4 separate regions of the Homo sapiens genome follow, and regions 1, 3 and 4 are each linked to region 2. Evidence: fine-mapped expression QTL. A gene starts in region 2. Each other region holds a variant in brackets. All regions are shown on one strand. Distances are between the middles of the regions. Region 1 overlaps TMOD3 (tropomodulin 3). Region 2 holds the start of LYSMD2 (LysM domain containing 2). Region 3 overlaps MAPK6-DT (MAPK6 divergent transcript). Region 4 overlaps DMXL2 (Dmx like 2).

The links. PIP is the estimated chance that this variant, and not a neighbour inherited with it, causes the effect.
Region 1: its variant is fine-mapped to the expression of LYSMD2 in nasal epithelium (TOPMed, PIP 0.98).
Region 3: its variant is fine-mapped to the expression of LYSMD2 in whole blood (INTERVAL, PIP above 0.99).
Region 4: its variant is fine-mapped to the expression of LYSMD2 in whole blood (INTERVAL, PIP above 0.99).

What each region holds. Positions count from the first base shown.
Region 1 is chr15:51,856,323-51,864,429 of GRCh38, reverse strand. It overlaps TMOD3 (tropomodulin 3), which reads right to left. Exons shown (of 10, transcript NM_014547.5): 2 at 1,420-1,619. The coding sequence starts at 1,545. It also overlaps the pseudogene LOC100422490. Among named protein-coding and RNA genes, the nearest start is that of TMOD3, 31 kb to the right of the region's middle. The variant C/T (reference allele first, on the strand shown) is at 4,359.
Region 2 is chr15:51,734,099-51,742,205 of GRCh38, reverse strand. LYSMD2 (LysM domain containing 2) reads left to right here and starts at 4,551. Exons shown (of 3, transcript NM_153374.3): 1 at 4,551-4,856. The coding sequence starts at 4,584. RefSeq lists silencers at 4,233-4,672, 4,683-4,822, 4,893-5,102, 6,776-6,845 and enhancers at 7,646-7,705, 7,716-7,775.
Region 3 is chr15:52,004,020-52,012,126 of GRCh38, reverse strand. It overlaps MAPK6-DT (MAPK6 divergent transcript), which reads left to right. Exons shown (of 2, transcript NR_156732.1): 2 at 661-1,128. It also overlaps a transcript of MAPK6 not described here. Among named protein-coding and RNA genes, the nearest start is that of MAPK6-DT, 11 kb to the left of the region's middle. RefSeq lists silencers at 41-335, 801-1,095 and enhancers at 3,552-3,691, 5,304-5,433. The variant G/A (reference allele first, on the strand shown) is at 3,948.
Region 4 is chr15:51,595,707-51,603,813 of GRCh38, reverse strand. All of the region lies in intron 1 of DMXL2 (Dmx like 2), which reads left to right. Among named protein-coding and RNA genes, the nearest start is that of DMXL2, 23 kb to the left of the region's middle. RefSeq lists an enhancer at 1-262. The variant A/C (reference allele first, on the strand shown) is at 4,085.

The sequences.
Region 1 (8,107 bases), 120 kb before region 2:
TGTGCTACTGGTCAGGGATGTTGTTAAACATCCCTCCAAGGCACAGAACGGCCCCCCTACAACAAATTATCCAACCTCAAAAGTAAATACTGTCAAGATTGAGGAACCTGGCCTAGGGACTAGATAAAGTCTTATGCTTTTTCCAGTTTTTTTTTTTTTTTTTTTGAGATAAGTCTTGCTCTGTCACCCAAGCTGGAGTACAGTGGTGCAATTTCGGCTCACTGCAACTTCCACCTCTCTGGCTCAAGCAATTCTCATACCTCCACTTCCCAAGTAGCCTGGGGCTACATGCGTGCACCACCATGCCCAGCTAATTTTTGTATATTTAGTAGAGACGGGGTTCACTATGTTGGCCAGGCTGGTCTCGAACTCCTGGCCTCAAGTGATCCACCCGCCTCGGCCTCCCAAAGTGCTGCGATTATAGGCGTGAGCACCCAGCCACTTTTTCCAGTTCTAAAACATTTGATTCAAATAGGTCTAATAGATTGAACTGCCTACAGAAGATACTGTTGTGATGTGATAAAAACAGCATCATTATCCTGAGTAATCCCCCTCCAATCAGATGTACTGGGAACTTTTCCTTATAATAGTAATTATGGTTAAGGGATTTGATCTATGGTATAGATACATCATCCAGTAACAACAACGTTATAAAATGAACTCCATCTCAGTCCTTAGAGGATACTTAAAATCAACGTCTTGGCATAAAGAAATGTGGTAAAGAAAAGAAGCCTAGCAAACAACCATTACCTTCACGACCTTCAGGCTCTTCCTTCACTGCCCGTCCTCCAACATATCAGGGAATAACAATTCAAGGGTCATGGGTGTCTATCTTAGCCTTGTGTAATTTATAAGACAAACAACATCCACCTTGCAAGTTAAAGCTTACATACATATATTCATGTCTGCTCCACAGTGGACTGCTGTATTGCCAAGAAGTTACTTAGATCTATTCTACCAATGTCTGGAAATGTAATCAATTCGGTCAGCCTCTTTCAGAAAGGGAACAATTAGATTTAGGGTCATGAAGAATCTTTTAGAGGCATTCTACACTGGAGCCACCTGGCATAGAAGCTCTGAAGAGACAGAGGTTGGCGTGTATCAAAAAGGTAACCATCTGCTGCATTGTACTAAAAATATCCCTTCCTGCACAGAGGAGAAAAATTTCTTAGAGGAGGAAAAAATTTCAGGAGATGTTTGAAAACAAGGATACTGAAGTAGTTTAGGACAGTCATGTCATTAAACATATGGAGGCAGAAGTGGGGAACTGGAGAGAGAGCCAAAAGCAACTTGATTTGGATAAAGTGGAGGAAAGGGTGGAAGGTGCCAGAGAAAAGTCATGGAAAAGCTCAAAGGCAGCTACTGAGTTTCAAAGAATTCGAAAAGTTATTTCATTTCTCTTCATCACCTAGCACCTACCTCGGGGTCAAGATCATCCAAAACAGTTTCCAGTTGTTTCAGTTCTGTTTCTGACAGATTCCCAAGGAGCTCATCTTCATCAAGGTCTTTGTACTTTTCTAAGTCCTTACGGAATGGCAGTGCCATGATGTGCAGGGCAGCAAGTCACTTAATTTTTGCTGTTCAGTACAGTCAGAAGTGATCTCTACTTTTTCTTAAAGCTATGGAGAGAAGAAACAAATACATTTTAAATAGTAAGTCATCTCCACCTACTTAGATCTAATTCTCAGGTTAAGTGAAATGTAATTTCCATGTGTCATATATTCTTTGATCACATATCACATACTATTCTTGTTTATGAATCATTCAATGCCTTTTGCCTTGTGTTGAGAAAAAAAAAATCAACCAGGAAAAAAGAGGGAAAAGATAAAACAAAATTCAAATCCATTAAGGCAGCCACTTGATAGAATTTAGAATTTCTAATAATTAAATTTTAGGGGGAAAGAAATTATGTGTCAAAATAAAAGATTTTCCATCAATAGCTTTCAAATTATTTTACCAGAGTACTTTGCTTCAGCACAATATGTTTAAGGCACATTTGTTTTACTATATATTGTTTAGGAGAACAATATGACTCAGTATTAATATGGGGGGATAGCAATACATTCCACATGACAGGAGTGGTCTCTTGCCACTAGGAAAAATATTCTTTTGAAAAGATGCATTTGAAAATATTTTTCTGAGGTGTTTTTAAAGGAAAAAAATACAGCATTCTGAAGATGATTGAGTAAAATACTCAAAATCATGCTGGGATATGTCATCCACTGACTGACAAGGTTGGTGGGAGGGTCTGACTGTGGGAAGGGACCATCATCATTTCCTTCCTGTGCGGTCTCTCCCAGGCAGCCATGAGGTTAATCAACAAGCAGGTTAATAGTAGCTCTAGAGACACAGAAGTTGGCATATATCAAAGAGCTAATCATCTGCTGATTCGGCAGGACTGTTCTATAGGAAAGGCGAAACCAAGGATTTCTGCATATTCCAGCCATATGTATGAACTGTCTGTCTCATAAAATATACCTAGTACTGGGCCAGACGCAGTGACTCACATCTGTAATCCCAGAACGTTGGGAGTCCGAGGCAGGTGAATCGCTTGAGCTCAGGAGTTTAAGAGCAGCCTGGGCAACATGGTGAAAAATACAAAACATCAGCCAGGTGTGGTGGTATACACCTGCGGTCCCAGCTACTCAGGAGGCTGAGATGGGAGGATGGCTTCAGCCCAGGAGGCAGAGGTTGCAGTGAGCCAAGATCGTGCCTTTACACTCTAGCCTGGGTGACATAGCAAGACCTTGTCTCAAAAAAAAAAAAAAAAAAGTACCTAGTACCTATGGAAATAAATACACTTTAGACTTAGTGATTTGGTTACGTTTTTCTTGACTGCAAAATGCTCAGTACTTCAGTTTGATACATTTCCTTTACTACCCCTTCCCTCAAGTTTTCTCAGCTTAATATTTTAGTATGTTTTTTCTGCAAACCAGTAACATTTTAAGGCTCCTTTGATGTGTTTCCATCTCCCATGAATGGAAATGTTCAAACTGTTTAGAAAGGCAGGCTCACCACTGGAGTCTGACAGCAATTTGACTAGCAACCACCTTGGGTCCAACAACAAGCAAATGGGGGAGCTTCCTGCACGTGTTCGCGGTTGAGAAGCTCCCATGGGGTTGTAGAGTTCGGACCTCATGGCAGAGATAATTCAGGAACACAAAGAAGATCAGCTCCCTGAATTGGAACAGCTAGAGCACATTGGACTGTTCAGTCATGCAGAGATTAACGCTATCATTAAGAAGGCTTCTGATCTACAGTACAGAATCCAGGAAAGAGCCCTTTTCAAGGACGACTTTATCAATTATGTTCAACATGAAATTAATCTTTTCGAACAGATCCAGAGAAGAACACGCATTGGATATTCATTTAAGAAGGATGAGATTGAGAATTCTATTGTACACCAGGTACAAGGTGTTTTCCGAAGTGCCTCAGCAAAGAGGAAAGACGATGTTCAACTTTGGCTCTCCTATGTAGGTTTTTGTTTGTTTTTTGAGATGGAGTCTTGCTCTGTCGCCTAGGCTGGAGTGCAGTGGCATGACCTCGGCTCACTGCAACCTCTGCCTCCTGGGTTCAAGCAATTCTCCTGTCTCAGCCTCCTGAGTGGCTGGGACCACAGGCGCCTGCCACCAGGCCCGGCTAATTTTTGTATTTTTAGTAGAGACGGGGTTTCACCTTGTTGGTCAGGCTGGTCTCCAACTCCTGACCTCAGGTGATCCACCCGCCTCGGCCTCCCAAAGTGCTGGGACTACAGGCATGAGCCACCGTGCCTGGCCTCCTATGTAGTTTTTTGTAAGAAATGGGCTACTAAAACTCAACTTAGCAAGGTATTCTCTGCCATGTTGGCCATTCATTCCAACAAGCCAGCTTTGTGGATTATGGCAGCCAAATGGGAAATGGAAGACTGCTTGTCTTCAGAAAGTGCAAGGCAACTATTTCTTTGGGCACTGCACTTTCATCCAGAGGGCCCAAAACTTTATCAAGACTACTTTAGGATGGAGCTGATGCATGCTGAAAAACTGAGGAAGGAAAAGCAAGAATTTCAAAAAGCCAACATGGATGTGGAGAATCCTGATTATTCTGAAGAAATCCTTAAGGGCAAATTGGCACGGATCATCTATGAAAATTCTGTAAGCATAATTTAAGGTGCAGAATTTCATGTGTCACTGCTTTCAACTGCACAGCGATTTGACTTTGCCAAAGGTCTACAAATAGAAATTTATGATGACCCTCAGGCTCTACACACAGATGATCTTCTCACTTGGGATTATGCGGCAAGGTGACAATTAGAGATCGAGTCACAAACGGGAGAAGAGCAGCGTACAGCCTACAACGAAATAAGACAAAGCAGAGGAGGG[C/T]CAGAAGGAGGACAGATGCTGTGCCGTATATGAAGAGGCAGTGAAGACTCTGCCAAGGGAGGCCATGTGGAAGTGTTATATCACCTTTTGCTTGGAAAGATTTACTAAGAAGACAAATAGTGGGTTCCTCAGAGGGAAGAGGTTGGAAAGAACCATGACTGCATTCAGAAGGGCACATGAACTCAAGCTTCTGCCAGAATTCCAATACAAGCAGTTGACTTGAGTTGTTGCTGTGCCATAACTTCCTGAGGAAAGCTCTAGAGGTGGCAGTAGCTGGGACTGAACTGTTTATAGAGACTCTGGGACAATGTGGCAGATGAAGGTGCATGTGCTGATTGACTCAAAGAGCCCTGACATAGCCATGCTTTTTGAGGAAGACTCTGTGCACCTGAAACTCCAGGTTTGTCTACCATTGTGGACTTCTTGGCAGAGTGGAGTGAAGGTGCCAAAAGCCAAGAAGACACCGAGGCAATCTTTAAGAAAGCTCTCTTAGCTGTCACAGGTGCCAACTCAGTAACCCTGAAGGATAAGTACCTGGATTGGGCTTATCAACATGGTGGCTACAAAAAAGCCAGAGCTGTGTATAAAAGTTTACAGAACAGCCATCCATTTTCAGTTGACTTTTTCAGGAAAATGATTCAGTTTGAAAACAGCAAGAATCCTGCAAGATGGTGAACATTAAGAGAATATTATGAGAGGGCTTTGAGAGAGTTTGGATCTGTAGATTCTGATCTTTGGGTGGATTGTATCAAGGAACCATTGAACCACCCCCTTGGTAGACCTGAAAACTGCAGACAGATCTACTGGCGAGCAATGAAAATGTTGCAGGGAGAGTCAGCAGAGGCATCTGTAGCTAAACATGCTATGTATCAGACTGGCCGTTTGTGAAGAGGAAGAATACAGCCATCTTTGTGAAACAGTATTGCAAGCCCTGTGGGCAAATATGTATTATGAGTCCATTTTTGTAATTTGTTCATCGATGGCAGACAAGATGGCTGTCTGATTTCAAGACACACTTTAATTTTATATTAACTTGTTAATTTTTTAAAAAATTTAAAAAAAGATTTTATGATTGAGACAGGGTCTTGTCCTGGCTGGTCTTGAACTCCTGGATTCAAGTGACCTTCCTGCCTCAGACTCCCGAGTAGCTGGGATTATAGGCGCAGGACACCATGCTCAGCTTGATGCACGAATCTCTAATTCCAGGAAAGAGAACTGCTGATTTAATGTTGAGATGCTGAGGCCAGACCTACCATAAGTCCTAAATGTTTTCCAGAATACATGGAAAGCATACGACTGGGTTTTACTTATTATCCCAGTTCAAGTATGAGTATCTCTAATCTAGCTAGGAGCCAGTTAAAATGAAGGAGAAAGTACAGTTTTGTTGGTTTATTCTCATTGTAAAAGATACATGGTATGCATTTGTTCTGGAAAATATAGAGGAAATAGAATTGTGTGTTGAAAAAAGTAAAAACATCCTGTAATCACAGGGGAAAAAAAACACAAGCAAATGAACAGAATTTGCTTATGCAGATACTACATTGCAGGCAACTTGTGTAACTGCCCAAAACAGGTCTGGTGTATACCTGTTTTATTGGCACCTCTTCTGGTTTACTGGTTATCTTGAATTTTTTTTTTTTTTTTAGCAAATTATTATCATTGTCATTACTGTTTGTTAAGCGTCCATTTTGTACCTCCAACTTTAAGATAGCAAGTTTGGCCAGGCACAGTGGCTCATGCCTGTAATCCCAACACTTTGGGAGGCTGAGGTAGGAGGATCACTTGAGCCCAGGAGTTTGAAACTAGCCTGGGCAACACAGTGAGACCTCATCTCTATACAAACTTTAAAAAAATAGCTGGGCATGGCAGCACACACCTGTAGTCCTAGCTACTTGGGAGGGTGAGGTAGAAGGATCGCTTGAGCCCAGAAGTTTGAGGCTGCAGTGAGCTACGGTCGTGTCACTGCACTCCAGCCTGGGCAACAAGGTGAGATCCTGTCTCTAAAAATAAATAAATAAATAAGCAAGCTTACAAGTATATTTACAGTATATTTTCTCCATTAAAAATAATACAGTCTTCAGATAAGATTCAATGGAAGATATCATCACTTTCCAATATATTAGCCATAAAATGTAATTCTGAAGAAGGTAAAAATTTAAGGGACAAAAATTAAAAATAACACCACTTAAAAAAATTTTCCCTTTATAAAAATATCAATGATGTGATATTTCAGACAGATAAGGGTAAGAAACTGATAAAAGTATATAAATATGTACCAAGAATAATTTAATTCATGCTTTTTTTTTAATGTTTGGATAATTACTGTTTTAAAAGTTTTTAATGTGCTTTAATACATTTTTGAAATTTTCAGTACATAAGCCAATTTTCTCAATGAATATTTTAAAATATACATAGATATAAGTTTAATTATTTTATGCATCCCTTACTTTACTTTCAAGAATGTCCTAGTATGGGTCATAAATTCAATGATCATTCTAACAGGGCACTCTAATAGGCAATACGATAGGAATGAGATATTAGGGGCAAAGGCAGGCAATGCTATATGCCACCCAGGTTCTGTAAAGTTGGAACATGACATTCTACATTCCACAGAGAGACTAAATAGCTTACTCCAATACATTGCTTCTCCTAATCCCAAAGTAAAATCTACTACACAAAGCTTGTTTACAGTATTGCTTAAAGAATAAAATGAAAAACCATGAACACCCTGCCCAGCATAAAAGAGAAAACATTACTAATACCCTCATATTCACTTCTCTAGTTGCATCTCCTCTTCCAAAAGTAGCCACTCTACCAGATTTTGAATTAATCATTCTCTTGCTTTCCTTCAGTTTTGCCTTATTTGTACATACCCTCAACAGTTTTAGATCTGCCCCTTTTCTTGCATGTTACGTAAACAGACTCGCAGAGTATGCACCCTTCTGTGACTTGCTTTTTTCATTTAATGTTGTTCATTGTTTTGAGTTGATGCTTAGAGCTATACTACTTTCTTTTCATTTCTATATACTATTCTATCGTATAAATGAACATTTAAGTTGCTTATAGTCTCTCCCCTCTATTTCTCTGCTATAAACAATCTTGTTACCTATTTCCTGGTACACATGCGTGAGAGAGTTTCTCTGACCTTCAAATCTAGGAATGGAATTGCTGGGAAAAGGGTATGCTTATACTGAACTTGATTAGGTAATCCCAAACTATTTTCAAAGTGATTGCTTGAATTAACATTCCCAGCAGATTCGGCACATGACAATTCACATTGCTCCTCATCCTTGCTCATTGTTGGTATTATCAGAGTATTTATTTTTGGCCATTCTGGTGGTATTTCACTGTGGTTTTAATTTGCATTTTGCTGAATTATGATGAGCTTGAGCATCTTTTCATATGTTCATTGGCAAATGTGTTCCTTATTGTGTGAAGAATCTTTTGCCCGTTAAAAAAAAAAAATGCCCTTAATATATTCTTTGTTGGTTATATGTAACAAATCTCTTCCATTTTTTTTTCAAGTCTTATCAAGTTTATCATGGTATATCCTAGGGGAAAACGTTTCTAAGTATTTTTCATTTTTAAAAAAGTTTACTTCTTTAGCTAGGTTTTCCTTTCCAAAGCAATGAAAAATGAATTTCCTTCAGATTCAGATTATAGAATTTTGCCATGAGGCAAGAACTTCTGGGTAATACACCAAAGTTCAAAGTTTCAATTCTGCTTCAATAAAAAGCAAATAACTGTTG
Region 2 (8,107 bases):
CAGCTGGGCATGGCGGTGCAGGCCTGTAATCTTGGTGCAGCTACTTGGGAGGCTGAGGCATGAAAATCGATTGAACCCAGGAAGTGGAGGTTGCAGTGAGTGGAGATTGTGCCATTGCACTCCAGCCAGGGCGACAGAGCGAGACTCCGTCTCAAAAAAAAAAAAATTTCTTTTTGGAGTGATGACAAACTTTCGGAAATAGATAGTGGTGATAGTTGCATAACATTGTGAATATATATATATTATTTATATATACATTATATATATATTTAATTATTATTTTTGTGAGATAGAGTCTCCTTCTGTTGCCCAGGCTGGAGTGCAGTGTTGCTATCTCGGGTCACTGTAACCTCCGCCTCCCAGGTTCAAGCGATTCTTCTGCCTCAGCCTCCCAAGTGGCTGGGATTACAGGCACCTGCCACCACACCAGGCTAATTTTTGTAGTTTTAGTAGAAATGGGGTTTCGCCATGTTGGCCAGGCTGGTCTTAAACTCCTGGCCTTAAGCGATCCACCTGCGTTGGCCTTCCAAAGTGCTGGAATAACAGGCGAGAACCACCACCCGGGCTGTGAATATATTTAATGTTACTGAATTGTAAGCTTAAAAATAGTTAAAATGGTGAATTTTATGTTATGTACATTTGTCACAATTCAAGAAATTAGTAATGTAATATAAATATGCAGAAAAGCATTGAATTATACACTTTAAATGGATGAATTATGTGATGTGTGAATTATATGATTTTGGTATCTTGTTTAAAAAACCCTTTGCTATCCCAAGGTTATAAAAATATTGTTGCAAAAGCATTAATGTTTGCTTTTCCCAATTATGTCTTTAATCAATCTATAATTGATTTTGATGTGTAGTATAAGACAGGGATCTAATTTCATCTTTTCTCACACAGAAAACTAACTGTTCCAGCAACATTTATTGAATATGTAACTTTACGTCTGCTATAGATTAAGTTATCCAATATATGTGAACCTGTTTGCTGGCTTACTTCCTTGTCCCTTTGTTATGTTTTCCTGCCTCAGTACCAGTCCCACATTGCTTTAGTTCTCATAGTTTTAAGTCTTCATGGCTATAAGGGTAAGCCTCCTTCCTAATTCTTCCTCAGGAATGCCTTGGCCCTTGTTAGTGCTTTATCTTTCATATGAATGTCAGCATAACTCTGTCATATCCTTTGAAGAATGCTATAGAGATTTTGTTTGCAATTTTAATGAATTTAACATTAGTTTGTAAAGAAAATGATATTTTCATTATTTTGCATTTCCCATTCACAAACATGGTATATCTCTGCTTTTATTTATATTTCTTTTATGTACTTCAAAAAAGTTTTATATTTTCCATACAATACACACTTTTCTTTCTTTCTTTTATTTTTTATCTTTTTATTTATTACCTTAAATTTTTTTTTCTGCTCCTACGCCACCAGGAACAATTTTCTCTTGTTAAATTTATTCCTAGGTATTTTTGGTGGTATGTGGAATGTCATCTTTTTCACACTTATATGATTGAGTGATGCAATTGATGTTTGTATATTGAGCTTGTATCTTTTAACTTTGGTGAACTCTCAATTGTTTGAACAGTTCCAATGTATTCATTATGTGTTGCCTATAAACATTTTAGTATTGCCTACTATCTGTAAATAACAGCTGATTTCTTTTCAATCTTCATTTCCTTTTCTTCTTTTTAAAATTGCCTTGGCAAAGACCTTCAAAACAATGTTAAATAGAGGCAGTAATAGGCTTCCTTTTCTTACCATTCCCTTCAAAGGAAATGCTTTTAATGTTTCATCTTTAATTGTGATGAACTTCTATGTTGTAGGTAGATACATATTAAAACAATTTTGAAGTTCTGGTTTAAGAAGGAAAACAATGAACATCTAATAACACCTCATGTAACTCAGTTCTTTTTTTTAAAAACAAAAAAACAAAAAAACAGGCCTGGCCAGGCGTGGTGGCTCAGGCCTGTAATCCCAGCACTTTGGAAGGCTGAGGCTGATGGATCACTTGAGGTCAGAAGTTTGAGAGAAGCCTGGCCAACATGATGAAACCCCACCTCTACTAAAAATACAAAAAATTAGGCGGGCATAGTGGCACATGCTGTAGTCCCAGCTACTCAGGAGGCTGAGGCAGGAAAACTGCTTGAACCTGGGAGGCGGAGCTTGCAGTGAACGGAGATCACACCACTGCACTCCAACCTAGGCAACAGAGCAAGACTCTATCTCAAAACAAACAAACAAACAAAGAAAACCCCAAAGCCAAACCAAAACAAAAAACCCCAGGGTCTCACTGTGTTGCTGAGGCTGGAGTGCAGTGGCATGATCTCTGCTTACTGCAGAGATCACCTACTGGGCTTAAGCAATCCTCCCACCTCACTTTCCCAAGTAGCTGGAACTACAGGAGTAGGCCACATGCTCGATTAAGTTTTGTATTTTTTGTAGAGATGGGTCTCACTATGTTGCCCAGGCTGGTCTTGAACTCCTGGGCTCAAGCTATCCTCCTTCCTTAGACTCCCAAAGTGCTGGAATGGGCCACTGCGCCTGGCTCAGTTCTTTAATCTTCAGATTAAAACTTCCAGCCATGCAGTAAACTTTTTCTTAGTGGAAAACATTATATGCTGTCTCATTCCTAGATTGTAAACTCTTTGAAGGAAGAGACTTCTTTCTTGAAACATTACCAGATCTTGTCTATATACTGAGACTCAAATTCTGCCTCTCTCTTGGGTCCTGAAATGGACACACTGGATACCACCCAAAAGTTTATGCATGGCAGACTTATGCTAAACAATCTAAATTAGCATTCAGGATCTTTTTACTACACCTCAATTCAACCACTTGTAATTATGTATTTATTTTTTTTTTTATTCCACTGAGCTAGGCACTGCTGGAGCTAAAAAGATGAGTAAGACCCAGTTATGCCTCCCAGGAGCACGTATTTGTTGGAGGAGATAAGACAAGCTCATGCATGTACATGCAAGTACAAACACAAAACACAGAGAGTTAAATACTAAACCAGAGGTATTAATACAAACCTCTTGGAGTTCAAAGAAGAAACAGTAACAGTTGGGCAGGTGGGAAAAAGGGACCATTGGGAAGAATTAGGAAAAATCTCATGGAGGATGTATCATTTGAGACAGACCTTAAAGATTTAAACAATGTAATAGAGGGTACTGGAAGAGTGTTACCATTGGAGGGAATAACATGCAAGGTATGAAAGTAGGAACAAGGAGGCCAGTTTCAGAGGCTCTGTTTGGCAGGAATATGTAGAGTATACAGAATGAGTTATAGATGGGGTATGGTCAGACCATGAATAATAAAAATAGAAATAATAGCTTGAATGCCAATGTAGGTTTTTAGTAATGCTGTTGTCCCCAGAGAGCCATTGTAGGAGTTTTGAGTGGGATGGTGTTGTGGAAGCTTGCTCCTCTCCCATCCTTTCTCTCCTGAGCAATATTAGCTTTGCCTCTGTCCAGCACAGCAACATACCAAAACTTCAGCCAACGAATCAAACCCCCAGGCTCCGGACCTTCCTACAAGGTACCTCTTCTTGGAAAGCTGTCCAAAATAACACAGAAACCAGGCACTAGATGCTAGTAAATGTGTACCCACTCTGTGTATAATACAGTGTGTTGAAAGGGTGTTCAAGAGTAGACGGTGTTCAAATGAAGAGTACAGATAAGAGGTCTTTGGTGGTTATAATATTAATAGCAATACGGGGCAGGGAGATGCGATTTCAGGGTGTCAAAGAATAAACTGACGAAGAGAAGATGAATGCAGACAGTAAATTCCAACTACTGAGCCTGGAGAATGAATTGTATGTGGCCAGCCTTTCGAGGCAGCCAGGACTTAAATTGGCACTAGTGTACAAAGTGTGAAACCCGAACAACTAGGGGGGTTATTTTGAGGCCACCCATTAGGCCTTAGAAGCACTATCCCTCCTAGTGCAATGTTGAAAGGACTGGACTCTGAGGCTGTTGAGATGGACCTGGAGAAGCTGTCTGTGTGTGTTTGATGATCTTAAGTTTTACTGTGACGTGGACTTTGAGGTCACTGGGGTGGGGGGAGGGAAGTACCCTTGGCATTGGCAGAGCTGGAAGGTCTGTGCAAGCTGGCTCCTGCTGGGGAATCAATAAAGGAGGCAGAGCAACGCTTTTTTTTTTTTTCGCCGTGGCCAGGGCAGGGTTCTGCCAGGGCTCTATCGCCAATGGAGCAGGGGTCCACCTGGGGCCTAGGACGCCTGCAGATAGCCCTCTCTTAGCCCCAACGGCCGCGGGCTTCAGCGCTCCCCGGCTCCCTCGCTCTGCAGGGTCTTCCCGGTACCGGCAGGCCGCGGCGGGAGCTGCTTTCGCTCTTAACCTTGCAGGTGCGTGTGCCGCGGGCGCCCGGGGCAGGCAGGACGCAGAGGAGGAGGCGCCCGCCATGCCCGGCCTGCGGCTCCCCGCCTCGGCTTCCCGTCCGCCGCCCCCGCGGAACGGCCTGCTGCAGCCCCTGTGAAGAGGAAGAGGCGGCGGCGGCGGCGGAGGAGGAGGAGGCGCCGCCCCCTTGGCAAGCTCCCCGACCCGGCGGCCTCGGCAGGACCCATGGCGGATTCCTCGCCCGCACTGTCCCTGCGGGAAGGCGGCCCCCGCGCGCCGCGGCCCTCGGCCCCCTCGCCGCCGCCGCGCTCGCGCTCCGGCTCCGAGTCCGAGGAGGCCGAGCTGTCGCTGAGCCTGGCCCGCACCAAGACCCGCTCGTACGGCAGCACCGCCAGCGTGCGGGCGCCGCTGGGCGCCGGCGTCATCGAGCGCCATGTGGAGCACCGGGTCCGCGCGGGCGACACGCTGCAGGGCATCGCGCTCAAGTACGGTGTCACGGTGAGCAGGGCGCGCCGCCGCGGCCCGGGCTGGCAGCTACCGCGCAGGAGGCGGTGCGGCTCGGGGTGCGGTGGGGGTGGGGGTGGGACTGCGGGTGGGGGTTTGGGGGATGGGGAGTCGCAGGGACGGCCGTGCGTCCCCGGGCGGCTCGGCTCCCAGGGCTCGCTCAGCGCGCGCTGCTGGCCACCGCAGTGGTCGCCAAAGCTGGTCCTGCAGCGGGAGGGGCGGACCGCCAGGGCTCCCTCCCTAGGTAGCTGCATCGAGTTCCCGGTGCCCCGCCCAGGCTCAGACTAGATCTGTCGCGTGAGGGAGGCCGAAGAGGACTAGGGCTTTGGCATCCCCGTGAACCACCTTCACCCAATTTGCAGGCCCCATCACACTACTCTATATTTACGCAAAGCCCAACTGAGGTGAATTTTGTTGTCTGTGAAAACAAGCTCCGTGATGAGTCAGGAATGGTGCAGTTGTTCCTACTGGGTGGTTCTGGTTCTATCGATTATGCTTCTTTATGTAGAAGTGAAATTACACCCTCTGGGCTCACTGGCAACCGCGAATGTGACACCTGTCGCTAAGCAGCAGCCAAGAACTGTGGTGAGCTGGAGGGCTGCGTTTATTACAAATTTATAAGTGTGTGTGTCTTGGGTGTATAGCATTACACCTCTGGGAAGAACATGGAAACCTGAGGGAACAAATTGTTTCATTAAAATTACTTATAATTAACTGTGAGCTATGTGATGGCCTTTTTACATTTGGGATCTGTATCAGTTTTCAGTGTTCTTTCCTGAAGCACCTTAGACAGCAATGGGAAGAAAGAGGATCTTATCTATATCTTTCCCTTAAAGTGAAACTCTTTCTGGCCCTTTACCGAATGAAGGAGCATCAGTATGAAGGAGAATGTATTTTGCATATTTAAGCCGGTATATGTTTACCTATCAGGTCCTTCTATCTTTGAAATATTTTGAAAGGGACCTTGCTGTGCAGTCATGTATTGACTCTATCATGCCATGGAGAGCCCCATTCTGCCCTCTTGGGAGTTCTATACATGTGAACATAGAGCTACAATTCTCTATGTGCCTTAATGGGGCCTGGTTTGAGTCAGAGGCAGAGGAAAGCGAAGTTGGGAAATACCAGTAGCTACCCTCTGCTGAATGCCTCCTGTGTGGCAGGCATTGCGTTTGTCTTGTTTCATCTTTATCTTATTTAACTTTCACAATAAGCCCAGGAGGTAGGTGTAATTAATCTTTTTACAGATGAGAAGATGGATGAGAGGTAAGGATATTTTCCAAGTATGATCATTCATTGAGACCAGCTTGAATTAACAGTGATAAAGCATTTGCTTTCCTCTAGATATTACTTTTGATATCCATCCTTATTTTTATCTTAGTCTTATCAGGAGCTCTCTCAGCATCCTGGCTACTGAAGGAGGACAGTCTTTTCTATCTGGTTTTCAGGCATCTTGCCTTACTAGGCTAGTGACAGCACCTAAAAATCTATGACATGCAGAAGAGTGTTATTTCCCATGCTGTCTTCCCGTGCAATCTCTCTGTGACCCACAGCCGTCTGTGGTTTCACTTGAGTTGATTATAGATAACTCTTATACATCTGTTTACTGCAGTTTTCCACCTTTGATCAAATGCTTTCTAATCCCTGTTATGTCTAATATAGATCCTATTACTCATAACCTCATTACCCCTTTTTAAAATTAAAGTGTAGATCAGATTTTTCGTTGCTTTTATAAAGACTTTTGATTTTAAGATATTAAACACAAGGATAATGAATCAGGAACTATAATTGATAGTGACACATAGTTCATTACAGGGTTTCCCAACCTCAGCACTGTTGATGTTATAGACCAGATAACTCTTTGTTGCACGGGGTTGTCCTGTGCAGTGTAGAATATTTAGCAGCATCTCTGGCCTCTACCCACTAGATGCCAGTAGCACTCTCCCACCCCTATTCAGGCATTGCCGGATGTTCTCTAGAAGGCAAATTTACCCCTGGTTGAGGACCACTGGTTTATTACATGTATTTCTCATTACTTTGGGCCCTGGCTTATAGTTGATAAAATTTTTAGAGACTCCTCCACTGGTAATATAGAATCAGTGAAAGTGATAATACTTACCATAACAGTGAAGTGATATTCTTGTTTTAATATCTTCAGATTTTTTTTTTTTTTGAGACAGGGTCTCACTCTGTTACCCAGGCTGGAGTGCAGTGGCACTAACATGGCTCACTGCAGCCTCAGCTGCCGCTGCTCAAGTGATCTTCCCACCTCGGCCTCCTGAGGAGTTGGGACTACAGGCTCAAGCCACATGCCCAGCTAATTTTTGTATTTTTTGTAGAAATGGGGTCTCATTATGTTGCCCAGGCTGGTCTGGAACTCCTGGGCTCAAGCAATCCACCCACCTCAGCCTCCCAAAGTGCTGGGCCTACAGGTGTGAGCCACTGCACTGGTCTAATATCTGCAGATATTAATTAGGTTTACTCATTGTGAGATTTTAAGGTGGAAGCTAAAAAGGCAGAAAAATATTTTTCTTCTGACTGAACAGAAAGAAGTTGAGCAAATTAGGTTTCTGTTGTTGACTGGCAAGACCATCTACAACATATTTAAATGATTGTTTTAAAAGGTCGAAAATGAGATATTGGAGGCTTAGAGACTCAAGGCAGTGCACCTAGAAATTAAGTCAGTTCAGCAAACAGTTGACCTTAACATACCATGTCTGTCAATCTTGCACAGATGAGCAGAAACTCTCAGGAAAGCCTGTCTCTCCATGGCAACTCCTCAGCCACCCAGCTGGGTGTCAGGCAGGACTTCAGTCCTTTGGTGGAAGACTGATTAAGAGCCAGTCGTAGTCTAGGTACAAGGAAGTTCCCAGAACAGAGACTCCGACAAGGGGGTGAAGATGGAGACCTGGTTGCCAGCCCTGGATTACAAGGGTAACAAGCTGGGAGCCATTTTCTGAAGTGGTGCTGAAGGGCTGGCAGCAGGGCATATCTCAGGATGTGAGAATAGATCCATGTTCCTCAAATTGGCCTGGGCAGGACAGGAATACTCTGGGGCAAACTAAAAATAAAGGATCCTAGCTGACATTGGATCTATGGGATTGGAATACCCAGAAAAGGAGTCTAGGAGTCTCTGTTTTGTTTGTTTGTTTGTTTTTGTTTTTGAGACAAAGGCTCACTTTGTCACCCTGGCTGGAGTGCAGTGGCCTGATCTTGGCTCACTGCAACCTCCGCCTCCCGGGTTCAAG
Region 3 (8,107 bases), 270 kb before region 2:
CTGAGAGGGCTATTACGAGAGGCATTGGCTCAGCATAAGAAAGGATTGTTTTGGATATTGGAACTGAGCCACAGTGGACAGGACTTCCCTGGTGAAGTGAATGCTACATCACTGGAAGCATTCAATCAGAAAACAATGGCCACCTGTCAAGGAGGGTCTAAAAGGAACTGCAGAGGAGAGGAGGGGCCTACAGCCAGCTGATAACTTCCATGGTCTCCAACTTGAAGCTTCTGTGTGTCTGTTTATACTCTTAATTTAAAATGACTGCTCTCCTAGACACGGTTTATAGAAGAACACGTTGTAATTTGATTTGTAAATAAACAAAACAGCCTTCCACTGAAGAAATTCATTGCCAAGTACAGTTCATTCTCACAGTGGATTCTCATTATTTGTGGTACTTATGTTCTGTAAAGTGATCATGAACAGTAAATTAGTGAAAACTGAACCCTGCTCCTAGGGGAAATACAAGGCTAGGTTCCTGCAAACCTCTGGCACAACATTCTCATCAGCCAGTGAATATATAATCTTGTTTTATGTGTATTTCTGTTTCAAGACACCTTTTTAAATACTTATTGTTGATTCATTAGCACTGAACTCGCTGCCAAAAGCACTGTAACTCATGCCTGAATAAAGCTTATCTAACATGTATTTTCTCTGTAGGGCACTTCACAGCCTTCTGTGCTTAGGAACTCTATACAGCACTTCAGCAATAGATTTGGGGGCCACTTTAAACAGCAAAATCACCAACGGAAAGCAAAACATGTGATGGCTCGGCACAGTGGCATGTGCCTATAGTCCCAGCTACTCAGGAGGCTGAGACAGGAGGGTCACTTGAGCCCAGGAGTTTGAGTCCAGCCTGGTCAACATAGAGAGATCCTGTTTCTAAAAACAAAAAAATCATGGCACCAAATAGACCATGGAAAGGACACTCGTTTACAGTACGAGAGTTGAAACAAGAAGGCAGAATCTTGTCTTGTTTGGCCTCAGCTGGCAACGTTCCCGTAGGGTGACTCAAGTATCTCGTTACTGTGCATGTTCAAAAGTGACTACAAAGGTGCTATGACTACTTCGAGGTTACAAATAAGTTTCAGCAATAGGCAAATTTGCAAACAGAATCTGTGAATAATGAGGACTGACTATAGTTAAAGATTATGGAGAGAATGTTTTCAGTCAAAACCCATCAAACCTGTACATAAAGTTTGATGAGAGGCAGATCACACGAATGATTTTTGGAAATGCAAGACTACCACCTGCAAACAAAACTAGGATCCCACATTTAATTGGATGGGGCAACAAGAGTATCCCCTCCGCCAGGCGCGGTGGCTCACGCCCATAATCCCAGCACTTTGGGAGGCCAAGGTGAGTGGATCACTTGAGGTCAGGAGTTTGAGACCAGCCTAGCCAACATGGTAAAATCCCATCTCTACTAAAAATACAAAAATTAGCCTGGCCTGGTGATGTGTGCCTGTAGTCCCAGCTACTCAGGAGGCTGAGGCAGGAGAATCGCTTGAACCCAAGAGATGGAGGTTGTAGTGAGCCAAGATCGTGCCACTACACTCCAGCCTGGGCAACAGAGTGAAACTCTGTCTCAAAAAAAAAAAAAAAAAAAAAAGGCTGGGTGCAATGGCTCATGCCTGTAATCCCAGCACTTTGGAAGGCCGAGTTGGGTGGATCAGCTGAGGTCAGGCGTTCAAGACCAGCCTGACCAACATGGAGAAACCCTGTCTCTACTAAAAATACAAAAATTAGCTGGGTGTGGTGGCACCTGTAATCTCAGCTACTCGAGAGGCTGAGGCAGGAGAATCGCTTGAACCCAGGAGGCAGAGGTTGCAGTGAGCCAAGATCATGCCATTGCATTCCAGCCTGGGCAACAAAAACAAAACTCTGTCTCAAAAAAACAAAAAAACAACTTATCCTTCAGGAGAATGGTAATAGCAATCATTTATCAAGTTCCTACCAAGTAGCCCGTTTCAGGTAAACACTTTACAAACGTTCTATCATTTTCTCAGACTATGACAAATGGGATTTCATTGAAAAGCTGTAAGAAATTACTTAAGGCCAGGCACGGTGACTCACGCCTGTAATCCCAGCACTTTGGGAGGCTGAGGCAGGTGGATCACAAGGTCAGGAGTTTGAGACCAGCCTGGCCAAGATGGTGAAACTGTGTCTCTACTAAAAATATAAAAAGTAGCCGGGCATGGTGGCGGGCACCTGTAATTCCAGCTACTCAGGAGGCTAAAGCAGGAGAATCACTTGAACCCAGGAGGCAGTGGTTGCAGTGAGCCAAGATAGCACCACTGCACTCTAGCCTGGGCGACAGAGCAAGACTCTGTCTCAAAAAAAGAAAAAAAAAATTGCTTAAATATTTTAGACAAAACCTGGCTTTCCTTGTAATAAAATCAATTTCTGAGACAAAAACTATACATTTACTTTTTAAATAATGGTTATATAATTAAACATTTAAAAGTACTGGGAAATATCTATTGGAATAATTTTATAAAACCAAATAAATAATCCAAAGAGCCCCTCTAATTTTTCTGCTTTGGAAGTCAGAATTTTCTGGAAGCAAGGCAAATTTGTAGAAATGGTAGAATTAAACTAGTAATACAAAACTTACAGCCTCTCCCAACACACACATTTTAAGAGAAGCATAGAGAGAGTGACACTTTCTGGCTTCAGGGAAATTTAGTCCAAAGGTTTTCTTATTTGCATTCTGTCCTTCCTTCTATCTTGAGAGGCCCAATACCTTGAAGAGAACAGATACTCCTAATTTCTGGAGACAGTGTCCAACTTGAACCTCTTGAGACCACAAAGCCTTCTATAACTAGTCTCAGATTTTGAGAACAACCTGGGTCTCTGCCACATGACCAGAGTAAATAAAAGGAAAGAATAGACCGGATGTTTGTCAGCCCATGTGCAGGGAATGATAAATATTTTGAGTTGTGGAGACAAAGCAGCTTTCAACTCACAAGGTCATGCTCCTCCCCTTTGCACTTCAGTAGTCAAGCTATCCTGTCCTTTGAGGAAGAAGGTAATCACTTCCTCTAACTAATCCTGTACCCAACATTTGCTTTCACTGGTCATTCTGAGTGCTCCATTTATCAATTAGTATATCATATGGTAGGCTTAGTAGGTCTGCCTTCCACAATCCTGCCTCTCACCTCCCATTTACCACTTGATAATTACTACCACTGGAACTCCCTTCCCAGAAGATGTCATCATCCCCAGAAACTGATAACCACCTCTGGAGTCTTTATCTGCATTCATCATTGCCTCTGGCAATCCCCTAGGTCTGGTGTCCTGGAAGAAAAATGGCCAGGGGCTCAAGAGGCCTAAGATTCATCTGCCCATCCTGGCCTCACTCTAAACCTATGAGTGCCCATCCCATTCCCTCCCACAACCAGGGCATTACACAGGGCCCTGCGTGCAAAAGGACCCCATGCTTGGTTTAATGCTCTGCTATGACCATCTTGACATTCCTGATGATTTTATCTTTGAACTCGTGTTGTGTAGTGAAGTCAGATGTGGCAGTGGAGCACGCAGGTGAGCAGAGGAGATAGATGCAATAAGTATGTTCACTATTTCCTGCCACCCTGTTCATGTATAGTGTTCTCCATGACCCATGTGCACAGGATTCTGGTGAGCCCGCGGTGCATCAGAATTCAGCAAGACAAAGCAAATAAGTATTAATACAAGGTAAGCCTGTTTTGTCTACGGCTGAGTAAGTGGGGGTCCTGATAGTTCTGAGAAGTCATGTTTTCCACTGGAACCAGAACTTCAAACCGAAAGAAGGCAATGGCATTCTAAGACATAAAAGACCACGGTACCCTATCATATCTTTTCTTTCTTGTGTCACTTCCCTGTGTTAGCTGACTGCTTGTGCTGAGGACATTTCCTTTGCCTTTCAGTACTTTCTTACTCCTCAGTAAGTCAAAGGTGGAGTGTTA[G/A]TACAATGTGTGTGCATCAGGAAGTGAAATAAGGGCTGGGCACAGTGGCTCACGTCTGTAATCCCAGCACTTTGGGAGGCTGAGGCGGGTGGATCACCTGAGGTCAGGAGTTTGAGACCAGCTTGCCCAAAATGGTGAAACCCCGTCTCTACTGAAAATACAAAAATTAGCCGGGCGTGGTGGCAGGTGCCTGTAATCCCAGCTACTTTGGAGGCTGAGGCAGGAGAATCACTTAAACCTGGGAGGTGGAGGTTGCAGTGAGCCAAGATCACACCATTGCACTCCAGCCTGGGTGACGGAGTGGAACTCCGTCTCAAAAAAAAAAAAAAAAAGAGGTGAAATATCAGTTGAGGTAGTTTTGTGTAGTTTTTATACTATTCTGGTAATAACCAACTATATATATATGTAAGAGCTAAAAAATAGAAATTATGTCATTTTGGTGAGTCCACAAAGGAATTAATTTTTTTTTTTTTTTTGAGATAGAGCTCTAGCTCTATTGCCCAGGCTGGAGTACATTGGTGCAAACACAGCTCACTACAGCCTTGGCCTCCTGGGCTCAAGCAAATCCTCCTGCCTCAGGAATTAAATGATCTTATATTTGTATTTAAAACTGGCTTTGCACAGTATAAAAATGAATTATAACATTCATGCTAGTAATTTAAATTTTTCTTTTTTCTTACGTAGAATAACATTAAATCACATATTTAAAACACTGTAACAAGTCAAGAGAGAGAGAGCAGGAGGAAAAAAAGTTGTCTTCTTAACTAGCTTAGCAGCATTTTTATTTTTCTGCCTTTTGAACCAAAGGGCCCCAGAAATTATGTAGCCAGTCTTGCTAGAACCCCACCCCCCAGAAGATAGCCCTGAAGAAGGTGGGTCAGGGACAGACTCCCCACCTGCTCCCACTCCCCTCCCTGCCAGAGCTGGGACAGGAGAAGTGAGAATATCTCTGCCCTTGGGGGTAAGTGTCCAAGGCTGCCTCAAAGCCCAGCCGCCCACACTTGGGAGCAGCACTTCCTATAATAAACACACAGGCTTCATTACACAGGGAGGTAGGAAGTGGGGTAGGAAGGAAGACCTTGTTCCTTCTGGGGCACATTTTCCCATAGAAACAATGTCGTAGGTCACAGTTCTATAGTCTCAAAGTCAAGCTGCATATGGGCTAAATGGCCTTCTAAGAGTTGGCCTGAGAACAGAACCAGTATTTCTAACATTGATTCTCTGGGGAAAATACATTTTCAGTTTCAAACAACCAAGTTAGAAATCAACTTTTGGGAACATAACTCAGTCACAAGCAGGGACTGTCTGTACCTTCCTAGCTTAGAAGTGCTGAGACCACAGAGAAGGATGGTATTTGTTAGACCCAGGTAAACAACTAAATGTTAATGACGCTATTAATAAGTCATAATTTCACTTTATGCTCTGGTAGATATGAAGGGTCCAGTTCTTCAGATTTGCTGCTTGAAGAACTTGATTGCAGGTTTACCAGGGTTGATTGGCCCCTGGCAACCAACACATACCAACCAAGTTCAAGAGATTGTACCCTAGACCAGCTGCCAATCCACTAAGCACACAAGAATAGCTGTGCTGAGTTGTACTCATGATTCATCCCGGCTGATATTCTCACACAATGATTGTGAACTTCTGTGTTTTAGTCATTGTAAACTCTAGTGTTGAGCACAGTGTCTGAATGTAGTGGTTTCTCAAAAAAATGTTAGTTGAAAACGAAAGGTGAATAGGGGTTTCCTTCAAATTTCCCCTTATTTAATTCTACTTTTAAAGCAACTTTCTTCTTAGGAAATCTATTTGGTCATTTTAGTTACCTCTTTCTATGACCTGGTATATCTATTAAATACTAGACTCTTTTTTACGGTTTCCAGGGAGAATTAAATGCATGATTCCAGGTATAACTTCATTACCATTTTGTCAAATGTAAGACAAAATAATGCTTTCAGTTCTGTTTTCCACGTTCTTAGCAAACAGGCCTAGCATATTGTTATATGACTTTAGGAAACAGTCAACAATAACTCATGGGTCTCTTTCTTAGAATAAAGCACAGCTCCCAACTCATCTTCTTTTAAGTGACTTTAGACTAACAATACTAAATGCATTATTCCAATTCAGTACAGAATGAAACTCATTTGCCATATTTTTGTCCACTCACATAAGCTGTGTGAAGCTTATCTTTTCAATTTAGATCCATCTGCTTGGTAGTTACTACTCTGGAGAGCTTAAGGCCATTTCCTACATGGGCCTGCTTCCACACAGTCTATCACAGTTTTAAGTAAGACAAGTCCCCCAGCAGTAATCCTTGGGGGCTCCACTGTGAAACCAGAAGAATCTCTCTGATGTCTTGGCACCAACGGTAGTCAGCAGACCTAGGTGTAAGCCCCAGTTCTGCCACTTAGTTGTTTGATTCCAGGCAAGTCATTTAATCTCAACTTTAAAATGGTATAAATAGCACCTACCTCCCCTCCCTCGAAGGGTGGGGTCTGTCCAAGGAATACATGAGATAATGTGTGTGGAAGCACCCCTAAAATGCTAACCTACTCTAAATAAGGGGTGCTGTTAGTATCTTCAGCCAGAAGCTTGCCTGTTTAAACTATCATTCACCTAAGTTAAGCCAGATCTCTCTCTCTCTTTTTTTTTTTTGAGATGGAATGTCACTCTTGTTGCCCAGGCTGGAGTGCAGTGGTGCGATCTTGGCTCACTGCAACCTCCACCTCCCAAGTTCAAGCAATTCTCCTGCCTCAGCCTCCTGAGTAGCTGGGATTACAGGCACCCGCCACCATGCCTGGCTAAGTTTTGTACTTTTTTAGTAGCGACAGGGTTTTGCCATGTTGGTCAGGATAGTCTTGAACTCCTGACCTCAGGTGATCTGCCCTCCTCAGCCTCCCAAAGTGCTGGGATTACAGGCATGAGCCACCGCACCTGGCCCAGATCTCTCTTCATTCATTCAAGTCATTCAACAGATAGCCTTTGAGTGCCTATTTTATCCAAGATAGAACTTTCTCCCACCTTTTGGGGTAACTTATTTGGGGGGTTTTGTTTGTTCTTCTTTGTTTCCTCAGTGTTTAATGTGTAAATTGGTAAAGATATTTTTTAAAGTGTAGCGTTCACATGCTTATTTACCCCTCAAAGAAATGTCGTCCAACAGTGAAACATGAGGCATGCTCAAGCATGTTGCTGCAAAGGAAGAAGGTCAAACACAGTCTCTGCCTGCATCTCTCCACAGAAAGCAGGAGTCCCTTCCACGCTCAGCCTCAGAGCGACAGAAGGGAAAATCCAGAGTGGGGTTGCTATGGTTTGAACGTGTTCCCCAAAAAGCGTATGTTGGCAACTTAATCCCCAATGCAGCAGTGTTGGGAGGTGGGGCCTAATTGGAGGTGTTTAGGTCATGGGGGCTCCACTCTCATGAATTGAATCATGCTGATTATAATAAAGCTGGAAGCTTCAAGTTCAATGTCTTGCCCTCTGGAGATCGTTCTTGCCCTCTTGAGATCACTCTTGCCCTTCTGCCTTCTACCATGAGATGATGCAGCAAGAAGGACCTCATTAGATACTGTCCCCTCTTAGACTTCCCAGCCTCCACAACTGTGAGCCAAATAAATTTTTTTCCTTTATAAATTATTCAATCTCAGGTATTCTGTTATAAAAAGCACAAAACAGACTAAGACATGGGTGTAGCTGAGAGGGCCAGTGAGAAAGGGAAACAGGGGCAACTATATAACCCCTCAGATACCAACAACCGCTATAATAATAAATGGATCTACTTACATGAAAGCAGCTTATAGCAATCTCCTTTAATTAGCCCGTGGTCCTTTCTAACAAAGAAAAATCCCTTCCACTTTTAGAAGCTTCTGATGAAGGCTTATGGATACTGCTTCCAAAGGAAAGATAAAAGGCAAAGCATTCCTAGGGAAAAGGAGGAAAGACGTATTTGTAAAATGATTTAGCTGTACAGCAGGTTATGAAGGAGTGAAAAGGAAAAGATTAAAATGGTTCTTTCCCTCCTCCCTCTGTGACTCAGATTAATCCTAAAAATAATCTTCATCCCAGTATGAGACGCTTAGTAAAGACTCACATCTCCACAGACCAATTTTCATGATGGTCGTGGGGAGGAAAGGAACAAAAGGAAAAGGGAGATAGGGAACAGGAGC
Region 4 (8,107 bases), 140 kb after region 2:
TCACTGCAAGCTCCGCCTCCCGGGTTCGCGCCATTCTCCTGCCTCAGCCTCGTGACTAGCTGGGACTACTGGTGCCTGCCACCACGCCCGGCTAATTTTTTTTTGTTTTTTAGTAGAGATGGGGTTTCGCCATGTTAGCTAGTATGGTGTCGATCTCCTGACCTCGTGATCTGCCTGCCTGGGCCTCCCAAAGTGCTGGGATTACAGGCGTGAGTCACTGCGCCCGGCCGTATTTTGTCCTTTTCTACTTTCTCTCAGGATTATGTAGAATAGGTGTTATTTCTTTTTTAAATGTTAGTAGAATTTATAAGTGAAACAATCTGGGCCTGGAGTTTTCTTTTTCAGAAGGGTTTTAACTATACGTTTAATTTATTTAATAGTTAAAGGACTATCCTAGTAATATGTTTCAGCTTGGGTGTGTTTTTACTGTTTTTGGTTTTAGAGGAATTGGTCTTTTTCATCTGTTTCATTTTTATAGGTTTGCGTATAGAGTTGTTTGTGGCATTTCGTTATTATACTTTTAATGTGTGCAGGGTTAGTACTGATACCCCTCTTTTATTCTTGATATTGGTAATTTGTGTCTTTTCTCTTTGCCTATCTTGCTGAAGTTTTTATGTTATATTGCTCTTTTGATTTCATTCATATTCACTCTTGGTTTTCTGTTAATATCATTGATATCTGCTTTTTTATTGTTTCCTGCCTTCTATGTGATTTGGAATTGTTTTACTCTTCTTTTTCTAATTGATTAAGATGGAAACCTATGTTATTGATTTGGGGAGTGCCCACACTTCTTTAAACATTTTTCTACTAGCCATTTTAACATCTTTGTCAGTTGATTTCAACATCTGTGTCTTGTTGTCTCTTCTCTTGCAAGTTGAGATTTTCTTAGTTCTTTATATGAGTAATTTTGGATTATGCCTGGACATTTAAAAATATTACGTTATGCGACTCTGGGCCTTTTGTAAATCCTATGGAGAATGTTGATATTTTTGTTTTAGCAGGAATTAGAGCTGGCTGGGTTGAGATGGAAAGGTTTGACCAACCTTCTGTATATTGTAGTTTCCATGTAAGTTCCATTTTCAAAGCCTTTGCAGTGCTAGCTGAATATACTCTATCCTGTGATGTGCCACTGAGTGGCCAGTATGGAACCTGGGCAGTGGTCTCAAGGTCTTTGCTCTGCTGTTTAAGCTTAAGATTATGCTTGCACAGCCTGGGGATGAGCCCGGGAGTTTACAAGCAAGTTTGTTGAGTTGCCTTTCCAGACTCCTCTTTCTGTGACTTTCCTGGTACTTTCTGGTTTTCTGGCTGGAAAACCAGTCACTTCCTGTGACTGTACCTGTCTATATTCAGTGCCAAAGTACCTGTAGAGAAAGAAAAAGAGCAACGTGGATCCACTCTACTCTCTTGGGGTCATGGCACCTCAGAGTAGAACTGTGGAATTATTTGGGGGCTGTGATATCAGAAAATAGAGAAAAGGGAAAAAAAAGATAAAGGGAGAATTTTTCCTCCCTTTCTGTGAACATTAAGAGTCTCCTTTCCCATTCCTTGAGCCAAAAGTAAATGGCTTCTCCTGGAGCTCTCTGTTTTTGCTGCTTGGTTTAGGCCTGACAGTCCAGGCCTAACTTAGTTCAGTAAAATGGGAAACTCTGCTAGAATAGTGAACTTCAAACTCCATTCTTCTTACCGCATTTATCTGCTATAATTCACCTTATTAAGAGTCCTCAAATAGCTGTTCTGTGCTTTCTGTTTATGTTTTATGGCTGCATCAAGTGGGAGAGACATCACTGTGGTTACTTTATTTTACTTGGAACTGGAGCTATGATGTCATTTTTCATACCATCAAAAAGGACCTAGCAACAAATCTAATGATATATGTGTAAAACTCCTATAAGCAAAATTAATAAACTTTATTGAGAGACTTAAAGGAGATAAATACTATGTTCATGGACTGGAAGATTCACTACTGTAAAAATATCAACCATTTCCAAGCTTATTTATGTATCTTTGATGCATTCCCAATCAAAATTTTAAGAGAATTTTGTGGAATTTGATAGAATGATGCTAAAATTTTATGGAGCTAGATAGTGCCAAGAATAGATAAGGCAATATTGAAGAGCAATAAAGAAGACTTCTACCAGCTCAAGACTTATAAAAGTTGTAGTCATTAAGATAGTGAGATGGCAGTCTGAGGACAAATACACCAAAATCAGCACCAGAAAGAGACCCACACATTTGTTGATGTTTGATTTATATCACAATTGGCATGGTAGAGTAACAGGATGGTTGATCTTTTCAATCAGTGGTGCTGGGACATCTTGTTATCTACATAGGAAAGAAGGAAGACTTGGTCCCTATCTCACCCCATACATAAAAATTAACTCCAAGTAGATTAGAGATGTGCAAGACAGAACAATACATATTTTAGAAGGGAGAATTCAGAGGAATACATGTAGAGGAAAATGTATTGCTAACCTTGAGGTTGCAAAAGATTTCTTAAAACATCAAATTTTTTTTTTTTTTTTTGAGATGGAGTCTTGCTTTGTCACCCAGGCTGGAATGCAGTGGTGCAATCTCGGCTCACTGCAAGCTCCGCCTCCCAGGTTCACGCCATTCTCCTGCCTCAGCCTCCCGAGTAGCTGGGACTACAGGCGCCTGCCACCACGCCCGGCTAATTTTTTGTATTTTTAGTAGAGATGGGGTTTCACCACGTTAGCCAGGGTGGTCTCAATATCCTGACCTTGTGATCCGCCCGCCTCGGTCTCCCAAAGTGCTGGGATTACAGGCATAAGCCACCATGCCTGGCCAAATTGTTTTATTTTCCTCTAATTTGATCTTTCTTGAGAGTGTCTGTAAACTCTCTGGAGAGTGGCTGTTAACTGTATGTCTGTCCTGATGGGGCTCCAGGGATTATTGTGGAGCTGGGATATGACCATATGAGATGGTCATGGATGTTTACAGTCTGTCTTTCATGAGATAGTTTTTTATCTTGGTAGATGTCCTAATGCTTAAATGTCAGACCTATGGCCAGGTGTTCTTCTCACAGGAAACTTATACTGGCAGATACCCTTGTGGTTCTTGTCCTATCCGTGTCCAGTTTATTTGACCAAGACAGCCACGCTCTAGGAGAACCCTGACCAAGCGGAGAATTAGGTTCAGGTGTGTTGGTCAGGTGAGCTACAGAGGAGATGGTAAAACAAAACGCATGAAATAACAAGCAGTTTTAATTTCAGATTTTAGAGAGAAGAGAAAGTAGCACACCTTGCAAGGTCAACAGGAAGAGGGGTGCCACCTAGGACACGCAAGTGCAACCAGTGGATGGGATGAAAGAGAAAGGACCTAGGGAACTAAAGCCTTTACTGGGGTCCAGGGTGTTCTTAACCAAGCAAGTTTCCTATGAGGAGTTCTAATTTGTAGGTTGGAGCAAGCAGGCATGAGTCATGCTGTGACTAAGAGGTGGTCACTGAGGCATATCTGTGCAGGGTTTGGGGTCATTAGGGTGAGTCAGGTAGATTCTACCTAGCTCTCCTAAAAGGAGGTGATAACCAGGAGGTGGTTGTAAAAGGCAGGTATCTTGATTGACCACATTGAGGACCTGGGAGGAAATGGAGAACTAAAAACTGTGTCAAGGGTGACTGAGCCCTGATTCTTGAATGAGAAAGTCAGACTTATACTTGAAACGAATGCCAAGGCAACCTAAAATTATAGGAATTCACTACACAAATAAACCACAATTGCAGATAGAAATATTTTGGATATTGTGAGCCAGGTTTCTCATTATTGAAGAAGAGAGTTACAAGTGTAGAAAGTGGGAAGGCAGCCGGGTGCAATGGGTCACACCTGTAATCCCAGCACTTTGGGAGGCTGAGGCGGGCAGATCACGAGGTCAGGAGATTGAGACCATCCTGGCTAACACAGTGAAACCCTGTCTCTACTAAAAATACAAAAAATTAGCTGGGCATGTTGGCACGTGCCTGTAATCCCAGCTACTTGGGAGGCTGAGGCAGAAGAATCGCTTGAACGTGGGAGGTGAAGGTTGCAGTGAGCCAAGATGGCACCACTGCACTCCAGCCTGGGTGACAAAGCG[A/C]GACTCCATCTCAAAAAAAGAGAAAGTGGGAAGGCCAGAATGAACCTTGTCAATATAATTGCATTAGAGGCATTAGTGTGACCTCATAGATGTGTATGTGTCTATACACATATGAATATATTACATGTTTATATGAATAATGTGTGTATGTATACATGCATATATTTGTGTATATTTAAACAGACATAGAGCAGTGATGTATAGGTATAGAGATATGTAGATATGATACGGATGTTTGTATTGGTGTGTCTTTGATCCTAAGCCCTTTCAGTGGACAGTTGAAAATAGATATGTGTGTGTCTGTCTATAGATACATACATAAACATACACACACATTTGTTTTCCTAACTGTCAGCTGAGAGGCCTAGAAGCAGTGATACCCCTGTAGCAGTGAACACAACTGGCATCTAGATCTTGGTTTCTAAATACCTTTGTCCACTAAAAGGAACCACTATTTCTTGGAGGAATAGCTGATTTTAGGCTGGAGCATGAAAAATGAGATGAATCTGGAATTTCTTGTGCCAGAAAGTAAGGAATTGCTCAAAGAATGGTCATAGCATGTCATAATGACACTGGAGCTAGCTTAAAGGTCTTCCACTGGCCAAATCTGGGACAATCTGGGTATGAAAATAAATGATAGTGGATTATAACCCTTTGAATAAGATAAAAATCCATGAATTTTTACTGATATAAATAAGTACACAAATAAGGAACGCTCTTCTTTACAGAGGGAAACTGACAAATGATGCAACGATGGAATTAGAAAATTGCCATTTGGCAGCCATCATAGTAGTACTAAAACTAATGGATGAAAGTTTAGTAAGGAACAGGATATTTACATAATCTCAAAATATATTCCCACAGTATACTTATTAATTATAAAGGAAAAACAACATAGAGGAGAAACCTGGAAGATACTATCTGCATTTGCTGTCCAAAGTAAACATCATCAGAGATGGGGCAAATTAACAGAAGTGCCACCTGATAAAATGCAATAAGAACATTGCTACATTTCTGTGGTATTCCTGCCCCAAACCCATAACCTAAATCTAATTGAGAGGAAACATCAGAGAAACCTGCATTTTAAGATATTCTATAAAATAACTGATCTGTGTTCTTCAAAAGTGTTAATGCCATGAAAGACAAAGAAAGAGTGAAGAATTATTCCAGATTAAAGGAGTCTAAAAAGACATAGCTAAACACTTAATCTGGAATTTTCTTTTACTATAAAGGACACTATTGCAGCAGTTCAAGAAATCTAAGCTCTATAGATAATAGTATTTTATCAGTATCCATTGCCCGATCTTGATAATTGTACTGTGGTCATATAAGACATTTTTAAGGGGAAACATTAAAGTATTAAGGAATAAAAAGGAATCATGCCTGCAACTTTCAAATGGTCCAGAAAAAAATATATGTATGTATACAGAGACAAGGGTAAAGCAGATGTAAAATATTAACATTTGGGGAATGTGGTATACAGGAACTTTTTATAACTTTGTATAACTGTATAAATTTACAACTTTTTGTAAGCCTGAAATTATGTCAAAATAAAAAACTAAAAGTAAAGGAAGTACTGTATCATAAAAGGAGATTAATGATAGATTGGACTACTTTAAAATTAGGAACTTCCTCAAAGATAGCATTAAAAGTGAAATGCAAGTTGTGGAGTTGGAGAAAAGAATTGCAACATCTATATTTGACAAAGGACTAGTATCCAGAATATAACAATATCTACAAATAAGAAAATGATAACAATAACGGATGAAATATTTGAACAGGTGCGTCACAAGAGAAAATCTAAATGACCGGTAAATATTTGAAAAGGAGCCATAGCTCATTAATAATCACAAAAAGACAGATTGAAATCAGGAGATTCTATTATATACCTAACAGATTTGCACAAAATTACTTACTCTCACATGTATCTGGTGATGGCAAGGATGTCCAGTGATGGGAATTCTCATGCACTGCTAGTGACAGTATAAATTGGTACAACTATTTTGGAAAACAATTTAGCATTAATGCCAAAATTTAAGATACGCCTAACCTGTGATCCATCAGTTCCTCTTTTGTGTGTATATTCTAGAGAAATGCATGCACGTATGCGAGATTTCCCTACAAGAATGTTCATAGCAGCATTGTATGTAATAGGCAAAATGTCCATCAACATTAGAGTGGATAAATTGTGGTACATACCAGGGAATATTAATAAGAAATGAAAGTGAGTGAATCACAGTTACATACACCAGGATAAACTTCTGACCTAATGTTCAGAGAAAGAGACACAAAAGCATACAGTATGATTCCATTTACATAAAGTTCAGAGGGGAGGCAAAACTAAACCATATTGTTTAGGCATGCATACAGAGGTTGAAAAACTACAAAGAAAAATAAGGGGGTGATTTCCCAAAAAGGGTAGTGGCTACTTTTGCTTGAGACGGAGAAGTGTAATTTGGAAGGGACAGATAATCTTTTGAGTTGCTGGAAATACTCTTCTCTTCTTGGGTGGTGGTTACACATGTACTCACTTTAATTTATTCTTTGTGGAGGATGTTTTAGGTACACCTCTGAATTTAAAACATTGTCTTAGTGGGTTTTGTGAGGTTTTATGAGGGATTATGTAGGTGCATGTTTGTCTGCTTTTTTATTATTATTATTATACTTTAAGTTTTAGGGTACATGTGCACAACGTGCAGGTTAGTTACATATGTATACATGTGCCATGTTGGTGTGCTGCACCCATCAACTTGTCATTTAACATTAGGTATATCTCCTAATGCTATCCCACCCCCCTCCTCCCACCTCACAACAGGCCCCGGTGTGTGATGTTCCCCTTCCTGTGTCCATGTGTTCTTATTGTTCAGTTCCCACCTATGAGTGAGAACATGCGGTGTTTGGTTTTTTGTCTTTGCGATAGTTAGCTGAGAATGATGGTTTCCAGCTTCATCCATGTTCCTACAAAGGACATGAACTCATCATTTTTTATGGCTGCATAGCATTCCATGGTGTATATGTGCCACATTTTCTTAATCCAGTCTATCATTGTTGGACATTTGGGTTGGTTCCAAGTCTTTGCTATTGTGAACAGTGCCGCAGTAAACATATGTGTGCATGTGTCTTTATAGCAGCATGATTTATAATCCTTTGGGTATATACCCAGTAATGGGATTGCTGGGTCAAATGGTATTTCTAGTTCAAGATCCCTGAGGAATTGCCACACTGACTTCCACAATGGTCGAACTAGTTTACAGTCCCACCAGCAGTGTAAAAGTGTTCCTATTTCTCCACATCCTCTCCAGCACCTGTTGTTTCCTGACTTTTTAATGATCGCCATTCTAACTGGTGTGAGATGGTATCTCATTGTGGTTTTGATCTGCATTTCTCTGATGACCAGTGATGATGAGCATTTTTTCATGTGTCTTTTGGCTGCATAAATGTCTTCTTTTGAGAAGTGTCTGTTCATATCCTTCGCCCACTTTTTGATGGGGCTGTTTGTTTTTTTCTTGTAGATTTGTTTGAGTTCATTGTAGATTCTGGATATTAGCCCTTTGTCAGATGAGTAGTTTGCGAAAATTTTCTCCCATTCTGTAGGTTGCCTGTTCACTCTGATGGTAGTTTCTTTTGCTGTGCAGAAGCTCTTTAGTTTAATTAGATCCCTTTTGTCAATTTTGGCTTTTGTTGCCACTGCTTTTGGTGTTTTAGACATGAAGTCCTTGCCCATGCCTATGTCCTGAATGTTATTGCCTAGGTTTTCTTCTAGGGTTTTTATGGTTTTAGGTCTAACATTTAAGTCTTTAATCCATCTTGAATTAATTTTTGTATAAGGTGTAAGGAAGGGATCCAGTTTCAGCTTTCTACCTATGGCTAGCCAGTTTTCCCAGCACCATTTATTAAATAAGAAATCCTTTCCCCGTTTCTTGCTTTTGTCAGGTTTGTCAAAGATCAGATGGTTGTAGATATGTGGCATTATTTCTGAGGGCTCTGTTCTGTTCCATTGATCTATATCTCTGTTTTGGTACC